2 separate regions of the Homo sapiens genome follow, and region 1 is linked to region 2. The links come from fine-mapping of genetic effects on plasma protein levels. Region 2 holds a variant in brackets. A gene starts in the other region. All regions are shown on their reverse strands.

Region 1 (5,370 bases), not on the chromosome of region 2:
TGAGGGGCTGGGCATCAGAGGCTAAGCGGGAAGCCCAAGGGGGAGGTCCCCTCCCTCCTCCCTCCTCCGGCCTCTGAGTCAGGCCTTGGGCTCTCAGGAAATGTACCCTGATAACCTGGCAGCGATTCCTTCATTCCTGTCCCAGGGCAGGGAAGTCGGGTGGCCAGCTGGCTGTGTGTCACCTGCCCAGTGGAGTCAGCACCCTCGGCACGTGCTGGACATCTCATCCCCTGCTCAGACCCGCTGCCCTCGCTGCCCGCCATAGACACACCTCAATGCACAATGCTCCGATGTATCCCCTGCACACACACAACACTTGGGCCCTTCAAGGGTCTGCCACTTTCACATTCTGCCCAGAACTTGGGTCCCTTATATGTGAACCTCACTCCCTTACCCACTGCTTACCTGCACCTCCCTGCATTCATTCAACCCGTGTTCCCTGGTGGCTACTAAGTCGTGGCACAATTGGGGTCTGATATATAAGCCCACAAAGTCCTCCCAATCTAGTGGGGACACATGTGGACATCCCTGGCTGGGATTGGGAAGATGTCATAGCAGTGATGTTTGAGCACAGAAAAAGGGAAGGTGGTTTCCAGCCAATGAATCTACAATTAAAAAGTAACGCAAAACCAGAGACGAGGTGCGGCAGCTCATGCCTGTAATCCCAGCACTTTGGGAGGATCGCTTGAGGCCAGGCATTCCAGACCAGCCCGGGCAACAAAGCAAGACCCCCATCTCCACTTTTTTTTTTTTGAGACAGAGTCTCATACTGATGCTCAGGCTGGAGTGCAGTGGTGCAATCTCGGCTCACTGCAACCTCCACCTCCTGGGTTCAAGCGATCCTCCTGCCTCAGACTCAAGTAACTAGGATTGCAGACTCAAGACACCATGCCGGACTAATTTTTGTATTTTTATTTAACTTATTTATTTTTAATTTTTTGAGACAGAGTTTTGCTATTGTCGCCCACACTGGAGTTCAATGGCGCAATCTCGGCTCACTACAACCTTCACCTCCCAGGTTCAAGCAATTCTCCTGCCTCAGCCTCCTGAGAAGCTGGGATTACAGGTGCCCACCACCATGCCCAACTAATTTTTGTATTTTTAGTAGAGGTGGGGTGTCTCTATGTTGGCCAGGCTGGTCTTGAACTCCTGACCTCAGATGATCCGCCCACCTCAGCCTCCCAAAGTGCTGGGATTTACAGGCGTGAGCCACTGCATCTGGCCTATTTATTTTATTTATTTATTTATTTTGAGATGGAGTCTCCCTCTGTTGCCCAGGCTGGAGTGCAGTGGCACAATCTTGGCTTCCCAGGTTCAAGCAATTCTCCTGCCTCAGCCTCCCGAGTAGCTAAGATTACAGGTATGCGCCACCACGCCTGGCTAATTTTCTTTGTATTTTTTAGGAGAGACGGGGTTTTACCATGTTGGCCAAGCTGGTCTCAAACTCCTGATCTTGAGAATGATCCTCCCACCTTGGCCTCACAAAGTGCTGGGATTATAGGTGTGAGCCACCACATCCAAGCTCCACAATTTTTTTTGTTTGTTTGTTTTTTGAGACGGAGTCTCGCTCTGTCGCTCAGGCTGGAGTGCAATGGCGCAATATCTCGGCTCACTGCAACCTCCACCTCCTGGGTTCAAGCGATTCTCCTGCCTCAGCCTCCTGAGTAGCTGGAATTACAGGTGCGTGCTACCACGCCTGGCTAATTTTTGTATTTTTAGTAGAAATGGGGTTTCACCATGTTGTTCAGGATGGTCTCAAACTCCTGACCTCGTGATTCGTGTGCCTTGGCCTCCCAAAGTGCCGAGATTAGAGGCGTGAGCCACCACACCCAGCCTCAACAGGTGTTTTGAACGGCCAGAGTGGCCCTCAAGGAGGATACATGCCTCACTCCCACCGCAGCCACACGGCAAGCCTTCTTTCCCTGAGCCTCTGCCCTCTGCACCCCATCCCCCCATCTTCGCCTTACCACCTTTTATAATCCCTTTCGGTCTCAGTTTCCAAGGCAATTCCTCGAGGACCCTTTCACAATGCCAGCCTTTGCCAGGCTGTGGTGTGCTCACGCCATTCTTTTTCATCACTATTCCTAGCTTGAAATTATTGTGTAATTGCAATTTTTTTTTTTAAGACAGGGTCTCCCTCTGTTGCCCAGGCTGGAGTGCAGTGGCGTGATCATAGCTCAATGCTTCGTTGAACTCCTGGGCTCAAGCAATCCTCCTGCCTCAGCCTCCCAAATAGCTGGAACCATAGGCATGCGCCACAATGCCTGCCTAATTTTTATATTTCTTTGTAGAGATGAGGCCTCGCTATATTCCCCAGGCTGGTCTGGAACTCCTGGCTTCAAGTGATGCTCCAGCCTCAGCCTCCCAAAGCCGACTAGCCACCTTGCCAGCCTGTTTGTGATTATTTGATTGAAGTGTGTCACCCCTACTTCACCATGAGCTCAGGGCTCAAGGGGGACGGGGCTGGTGCCTGTTTTGTCCTGGACACCTGGGAACATCATAGGCACTTAGGAAATGTCTGTGGGATGATTGGTGCTGCTCCACAAGCTCGCCACCACCCATGAGGTGCAGGCATCGCAGAAAGGGCCTGGCAGGGGACAGACCATAGTGTCTTAAGCTCCCATAACCAGCCTAAGGAGGGAGGGAAGAAGGGAGGAGTGGCTGTGGCTCCAGATAATAAAAGCTGGGGCCAGGCCCTGGGGGGCATAACTGGCCTGAGATAACCTGAAAGACCTGAGGCGGAGGAGAGTCGTCACATTCCAGGGAGACTGCACACACACACAAACCACATGCACGTGCATGCACGCACACTCAGACACACACACTACACACACAGGGACACACACAGCCTACACATGTGCACATACAGCCTGTACATGCACACACACACACATACCACACCACATAAGAGGACACACACAGCCTACACAGGCATACACACACACCACATACACACTACACACCGGGACACACACACAAAAGGCCTATGCATGTGCACACACATACACACGGACACATACATGCACACACACGGGCCTGCAGCTCTGAAAGGACTCATGACTTTGGTGGCAAGAGGAGCTGGCGGAGCCCAGCCAGTGGGCGGGGCCAGGGGAGGGGCGGGCAGGTAGGTGCAGCCACTCCTGGGAGGACCCTGCGTGGCCAGACGGTGCTGGTGACTCGTCCACACTGCTCGCTTCGGATACTCCAGGCGTCTCCCGTTGCGGCCGCTCCCTGCCTTAGAGGCCAGCCTTGGACACTTGCTGCCCCTTTCCAGCCCGGATTCTGGGATCCTTCCCTCTGAGCCAACATCTGGGTCCTGCCTTCGACACCACCCCAAGGCTTCCTACCTTGCGTGCCTGGAGTCTGCCCCAGGGGCCCTTGTCCTGGGCCATGGCCCAGAAGGGGGTCCTGGGGCCTGGGCAGCTGGGGGCTGTGGCCATTCTGCTCTATCTTGGATTACTCCGGTCGGGGACAGGTAAGTGAGGACGTGGGGGCAGGGTGGGGACAATGCACTGGAGGGAGCCGGCGTGATCATTTTCTGGGGTGTGCCCTTGTCTGGGGCCCAAGAAAACCCCCGGCCTCCCTAGCTCTTGGCCTCTCTTTCCCACCTTGGCTCTGTCAGGGAAGGGGCCAGCCCTCTGGAGCAGTGGTGGGTACTAAGGGGTCAGGGAACCCGAGTCTTCCCTACTCACCCCTCCTCTTTCTCTTTCTTTCTAGGAGCGGAAGGGGCAGAAGGTGAGACTTTCCTCGGAGAGGGAGGAGGGGAGGGGGAGGTGACTTGGATCGGATTCCCCTGGGGTTTAACCAGTGCCTGGCCTTCAGCTGGGCTGCCTTCCAACTAGATTCTCTTAGGGCTCCCAGAGTGGGGGGTTTTAGCCCTCACCTTATGGGCAGAGAAGCAGGGACTTGCCCAGGGCACACTGCCAGTGAAGGTGCAGCTGGGATTCAGATCCACGTCTGACTCCCAAAGTGGGGCAATCGAGGTGGTTTTTTTGGTTTGGTTTTTGTCTTTTGAAACAGGGTCTGGGTCTGTCGTCACCCAGGCTGGAGTGCAGTGGCCCGATCGCAGCTCACTGCAGTCTCAGTGATCCAGCCTCCCGGGCTCACGTGATCCTCCCACCTCCCCACCTCAGCCTCCCTAGTGGCTGGGACTACAGGTGCATGCCATCACACCCAGCTAGTTGTGTTTTGTTTTTGTTTTTGTTTTTGTTTGGTAGAGATGTGGGTCTCACTATGTTGGCCGGGCAGGTCTTGAACTCCTGGGCTCAAGCGATCCTCCTGCCTTGGCCTCTCAAAGTGCTGGGATTACAGGTGTGAGCCACCGTTCCCATCCTGGAGGTGGTTTTGAGGGAACCAAACCAAGGGTCTCCTTTCTTGGAAGGCACCCAACCCAGCTCTGAGTCAGACCGGCTTTCAATCCTGGCTTCCCCATGCACTGGCTGTGTGTCATTGGCCAAGTCCCCCCACTTCTCTAAGCCTTAGACTCCTCACCTCTAAAATGAAGCTGGTCATGTCCGTCTCCTGGGGCTGTGGAGAGGATGCAGGGAGATGAGGAAGCGAAAGCCCCTCCAGGGCCTGGCACAGCCGCTAGGCTCTCTAAATAGTGGCTATTGTCATGATGATAAGGGAGAGAAAGATCTGGTCTGCAATTTTCTCTGCTCCTAGATGACTTTGTGAAGAGCAGTTGGGCTCCACTCCAAAGTGGCCTCAATGGGGGTGGGGCTGGGGCTGTCCTGGAAACTAGACATTCACATCACAGGAGCCCAGTTCTGCTGTTGGTTTGTTGAATATATGTCCACGACGCCACAGGCACTGCAGACATGAGAATCTGCCCCTAGGGAATGCCCAGATTGGTGTGGTGGAAACAGACACAGTTGTGGACTCCGGAACAATTGTGAGACTGGGCAGCATCGGGGAGCATGGTGGAGGTTGGGGGGTGCTGGGCTCGGAGGCAATGCCCAACTCAGCCAGCAGAAGCCCGCCTGTCTACGGAGGGGCTGCTGTTCCAATCAAGCATCCACAGGCAAAGGGAAGTTTGCCAGACAGTAAGGATGGGGAAGGGCATACCAGGTAGAGTGACCTGGATCAGCCAAGGTCCCGGGTAAACAAGTGTGTGGCCTGATGTACACAACTGAAGGGTCCAGAGGGGACGGCTGGGTCCGATGGCGGTGCCATGGTCTGTCTGGAATGTATCTTAAGGACCGCGTGGAGCCAAGAAGGGTTTAAGCAGGGCTGTGGCCTGGTCAGATTGGGGGTTTATGAAAATCTTCAGACTTGTAAGGGGCGGGATGGATGGAAGGCTTGCAAGGAGAGAAGCTGCCATGAGACCTGAATTAGGTAATGGGTAGTGGACAGAAGGGGCACAACTGC
Region 2 (5,370 bases):
CCACGCCCAGCTAATTTCTTTGTATTTTTAGTAGAGACAGGGTTTCACCATCCTGGCCAGCCTGGTCTTGAACTCCTGACCTCATGATCCACCTGTCTCGGCCTCCCAAAGTGCTGAGATAACAGGTGTGAGCCACCGTGCCCTGCTGATTTATTTATTTTTTTATAGAATTTATTGGCCAGGCGTGGTGGCTCATGCCTGTAATCCTAGCACGTTGAGTGGCCGAGGTAGGAGGATCACTTGAGGCCAGGAGTTCCAGACCAGCCCAGGGGAGACCCTGTCTCTACAAAAAATAAAATTAGCTAGACGTGGTGGTGCATGCCTGTGTTCTTAGTTACTCTGGAGGCTGAGGTGGGAGTATTGCTTGAGCCCAGGAGTTTGAGGCTGCAGTGAGCTATGATTGCACCACTGCACTCCAGCCTGGGAAACACAGCAACACCCTATCTCAAAAAAAAAAATATTACACTCTGGTCTGTCTATTCTATTGTCTGTTCACCGCCCCCCACCACCATCTTCAGAATATTAGCTCCTCGCCTACCTTGAAAAGCGCTGTGTTCCTGTGTAGAACGGCGCCGGGCGCACAGTAGGCGCTTGCCCAAGAACCGTACTCCCAGGTGGCCACGTTGTCTCCAAGCACCGCAGCCCTCTACGTGTGGACGTGAGGCCTCAGCGCCCCCTCGTGGCTATGTGAATTGGTTTTATTTTATTTTATTTCTTTGTTTTGTTTTTTTTTTTTAATTTTCGTTTCTCCTTTTTACTTTTTCTGTTTTGTTTCTTTGTTTGTTTTTTGAGACAGAGTTTTTGCTCTTGTCCCCCATGCTGGAGCGCAATGGCGCGATCTCGGCTCACTGCAACTTCCACCTCCCAGGTTCAAGCGATTCTCCTGCCTCAGCCTCCTGAGTAGCTGGGACTACACACGCGCCACCATGCCTGGCTAATTTTTGTATTTTTAGTAGAGACGGGATTTCACCATATTAGTCAGGCTGGTCTCAAACTCCTGACGTCAGGTAATCCACTCACCTCGGCCTCCCAAAGTGCTGGGATTACAAGCGTGAGCCACCGCACCCGGCTGTTTTGTTTTCATATCTTATCTTTTTTTTTTTTTTTTTTTTTTTTTTTTAGAAAGGGGTCTTGCTCTGTCGCCCAGGCTGGAGCACAGCAGCACTATGATAGCTCACTGCAGCCTCGAAATCCTGAGTTCAAGCGATCCTACCTGCTTCAGCCTCCTGAGTACCTGGGACTACAGGCACCCGCATCATGCCCGGCTTGAAGTGGTTTTTGTTTGTTTGTTTGTTTTGAGACTGAGAATCGCTCTGTCACTGAGGCTGGAGTGCAGTGGCATGATCTCGGCTCAATGCAATCTCCGCCTCCCGGGTTCAAGCGATTCTCCTGCCTCAGCCTCCTCAGTAGCTGGGATTTCAGGCACGCGCCACCATGCCCGGCTAATTTTTGTATTTTTAGTAGAGACGGGGTTTCGACATGTTGGTCAGGCTGGTCTCGAACTCCTGACCTCATGATCTGCCCAAGAGTTTGCAGTGAGCCGAGATCCTGCCATTGCACTCTGGCCTGGGCCACAGAGCAAGACCTTCCTCTCAAACAAACAAAAAAAAGAATAATGTCTCCAGCTCCATCCAAGTGGCTGCAAAATACATGATTTCATTCCTTTTAACGGCTGTATATGTACCACATTTCCTTTATGCACTCATTGGTTGATGGGCAGAACTTTTTTTTGAGACACGGTCTCACTCTGTTGCCCAGGCTGGAGTGCAGTGGAACCATCATAGCTCACTGCACCCTCAAACTCCTGAGCTCAGGTGATCCTCCCACCTCAGCCTCCCAAGTAACTAGGACTACAGGCACGTGTCATCACACCTAATTTTTTTTTCCTTAGACGAAGTCTCGCTGCTGCCCACTGTGCCCGCCCACAGCAATCTTCATCAAAATTCCAGATGAACTTTGGGAGGCTGAGGCGGGTGGATCACCTGAGGTTAGGCGATCGAGACCAGCCTAACCAACATGGTGAAACCCCATGTCTAGTAAAAATACAAAAATTAGCAGAGTGTAGTGGTGCATGCCTGTAATCACAGCTACTTGGGAGGCTGAGGCAGGAGAATTGCTTGAACCCAGGAGGCGGAGGTTGCAGTGAGCCGAGATTGTGCCGCTTGGGTTCAAGCAATTCTCCTGCCTCAGCCTCTTGAGTAGTTGGGATTACAGGCATGAACCACCACGCCCGGCTAATTTTTTTGTATTTTTAGTAGAGAAGGGGTTTCATCATATTGGTCAGGCTGGTCTCGAACTCCTGACCTCATGTGATCCACCCACCTTGGCCTCCCAAAGTGCTGGGATTACAGGCGTGAGCCACCGCGCCCAGCCTTGGAGGCCATTATTCTAAGTAAAGTAACTGAGGAATGGAAAACCACAAACCGTATGTTCTCACTTGTAAGCGGGAGCTAAGGTATGAGGACACAATGGCATAAGAATGATATAATGGACTCTGGGACTTGGGGCAGGGAAGGTTGGGAGGTGGTGAGGGATAAAGACTACATACTGGATACAGTGTACACTCTTCCAGTGACAAGTGCACTAAAATCTCAGAAGTCACCACTAAAGAACTTATCCATGCCAGGCGCGGTGGCTCACGCCTGTAATCCCAGCACTTTGGGAGGCCGAGGCGGGTGGATCACGAAGTCAGGAGATTGAGACCATCCTGGCTAATATGTTGAAACCCC[G/A]TCTCTATTAAAAATACAAAAAAATTAGCCAGGCATGGTGGCGGGCGCCTGTAGTCCCAGCTACTCAGGAGGCTGAGGCAGGAGAACGGCATGAACCCGGGAGGCGGAGCTTGCAGTGAGCCGAGATCGCGCCACTGCACTCCAGCCTGGGTGACAAAGCAAGACTCCATCTCAAAAAAAAAAAAAAAAAAAGAGCTTATCCATGTAACCAAAAACCACCTGTACCCCAAAACTATTGAAATTTTTTAAAAAATTTAAAAATAATCCTACTAAAGTGTCCCTATGTAGCAGCACATACAAAAATAGACTCCAGATAGAATAAAGACCTAAATGTAGAGTATAACAATTGAGTTGGCTGGGCGCAGTGGCTCACACCTGTAATCCTAGCACTTTGGGAGGCCGAGGCAGGTGGATTGCTTGAGCTCAAGAGTTTGAGACCAGCCTGGGCAAGACGGTGAAACCCCGTCTCTACTAAAATACAAAAAATTAGCAGGACGTGGTGGCATGCACCTGTAATCCCAGCTACTCGGGAGGCTGAGGCAGGAGAATTGCTTGAACCCGGGAGGTGGAGGTTGCAGTGAGCCGGGATCACACCACTGCACTCCAGCCTGGGTGACAGATGGAGACTCCGTCTCAAAAAACACAAAAAAAACAACAAAAAACACCAATGGAGTTGATTATGGAAAATGGAAGAGAATATCACTGTGACATGCCAAATTATTTCTCACTCTCCCATCAAAAGGTGGTGTCTCATTCCCTTCCCCTTGTATTTTTTTTCTTTGAGACAGAGTCTCACTCTTTTTGCCCAGGCTGGAGTGCAGTGGCGCAATCTTGACTCACTATAATCTCTGCTTTCCGGGTTCAAGTGATTCTTGTGCGTCAGCCTCCTAAGTAGCTGGATTACAAGCGTGTGCCACCATGCCCGGCTAATTTTTGTATTTTTAGTAGAGATGGGGTTTTGCCATATTGTCCTGGCTGGTCTCGAACTCCTGACCTCAGGTGATCCGCCCCCCTAGGCCTCCCAAAGTGCTGGCAACTCTCTGTCTTCTGCAAGTGTGTGCCCTCATTGGTTAGCATGGTTGGAGGAAACACAAGTTTTCACTTTAAATTCCTGACCCTCCCCTCCAGGCGTCCACTGGGGTGGGAGCCACGCTCCATACCTCCCTTGCTCATAGTGAGGGTTCCAAGTGTGTCTCTCTCCTTTCCCCATCCTTGCTCACAAGCTTCACTAGAAGAGAACACCCTAATTCCCTCGTCTCCTGCCGACTGCCCCACCTCCTGGCTTCTGTGCTGGTAAGTGCTTTTGGGTCCTGTTGGGATGGATCAGCTGTCTCTAACGTCACCCCCCTTGGGGATTTCCCCCATTTTCTTTTTTTTTTTTTTCTTTTTTGAGATGGGGTCTCTGTCACCCAGGCTGGAGTGCAGTGGCACCATCATGGCTCCCTGAAACCTCAACCTCCTCGGGCTCAGATGATCCTCCCACCTTAACCTCCCAAGTAGTAGCTGGGATTACAGGCACGTGCCATCATGCCCGGCTACCTTTTTTTTTTTTTTTTTTTTTTTTGTAGAGACGGGGTTTTGCCATGTTGCCCAGGCTGGTCTCGAGCTCCTGGGCTGAAGTGATCTGCCCACCTCGGCCTCCCAAATTGAGCCACCGTGCCTGGCCTATTTTCCCCATTTTCTCTTGCTTCCTGAAGGTCATTGCTCCAGCAGGTCCCCAGCCCCCACGTACTCATTCCCACGGGCACACAGACACATCGTCACTTCTTCCACATTAAAACAAAATCACAACAAAAACTCTCTGGACTTCCTCCAGCTCCAGCCCCATTTCTCCGTTTCCTTTTACAGCAAAATTTCTCACAAGAGACGTTCTCAGTTCTCTCTTACACCATTTCCAATCAAATGTTCACATCTTGCTGTTCCTACTCTGGAAATGCTCTTGTCGGGGTCCCCATGGTGTTGGGTCCAACATCACACCTCCTGCTTGTCTTGACCTCTCAGCTACATCCGGTGCAACACTGGCTCCCACTCCCCTGAATGCTTTCTTTCTTTCTTTTTTCTTTTGAGATGGAGTTTTGCTCTTGTTGCCCAGGCTAGAGTGCAATGGCGTGATCTCAGCTCATCGCAACCTCTGCCTCCTAGGTTCAAGTGATTCTCCTGCCTCAGCCTCTGGAGTAGCTGGGATCATAGGCGGGTGCCACCACGCCCGGCAGTTCTGTAATTTTAGTAGAGATTGGGTTTCTCCATGTTGGTCAGGATGGTCTCAAACTCCCAACCTCAGGTGATCCACCCACCTAGGCCTCCCAAAGTGCTGGGATTACAGGCATAAGCTACCGTGCCCAGCGAATATTTTCTTTTCTTTTCTCTTTTTTTTTTTTTTTTTTTTTTGAGACAGAGTCTTACTCTGTCGCCCAGGCTGGAGTGCAGTGGCTCGATCTTGGCTCACTGCAACCTCCACCTCCCTGGTTCAAGCAATTCTCCTGCCTCAGCCTTCCGAGTAGCTGGGATTACAGGCACGCACCACCATGCCCAGCTAAGTTTTGTATTTTTAGTAGAGAAGGGGTTTCACCATATTGGCCAGGCTAGTCTCGATCTCCTGACCTTGTGATCCACCTGCCTTGGCCTCCCAAAGTGGTGGGAT

Alleles and levels. Positions count from the first base shown, and alleles are read on the strand shown. Strength reflects both the effect of a copy and how common the allele is.
In carriers of allele G in region 2, the plasma level of the protein whose gene starts at base 3,162 in region 1 tends to be higher than with A alone (weak association).

What was found. A credible set is the group of variants that fine-mapping cannot tell apart. PIP is the chance, under the fine-mapping model, that this variant and not a neighbour inherited with it causes the effect. Protein levels are from antibody-based Olink assays in UK Biobank. Linkage for the fine-mapping came from a reference panel and not from the study's own genotypes, which makes the PIPs less certain.
Region 1: PRSS8 starts here. The variant in region 2 is the best candidate, but not a certain one, in a credible set for the plasma level of the PRSS8 protein (UK Biobank, PIP 0.59).

The regions. Positions count from the first base shown.
Region 1 is chr16:31,133,519-31,138,888 of GRCh38, reverse strand. PRSS8 (serine protease 8) reads left to right here and starts at 3,162. Exons shown (of 6, transcript NM_002773.5): 1 at 3,162-3,475; 2 at 3,718-3,735. The coding sequence starts at 3,391. RefSeq lists enhancers at 1-413, 4,101-5,047.
Region 2 is chr19:38,239,303-38,244,672 of GRCh38, reverse strand. No RefSeq gene overlaps it. Among named protein-coding and RNA genes, the nearest start is that of PPP1R14A, 14 kb to the left of the region's middle. RefSeq lists an enhancer at 1-429. The variant G/A (reference allele first, on the strand shown) is at 2,730.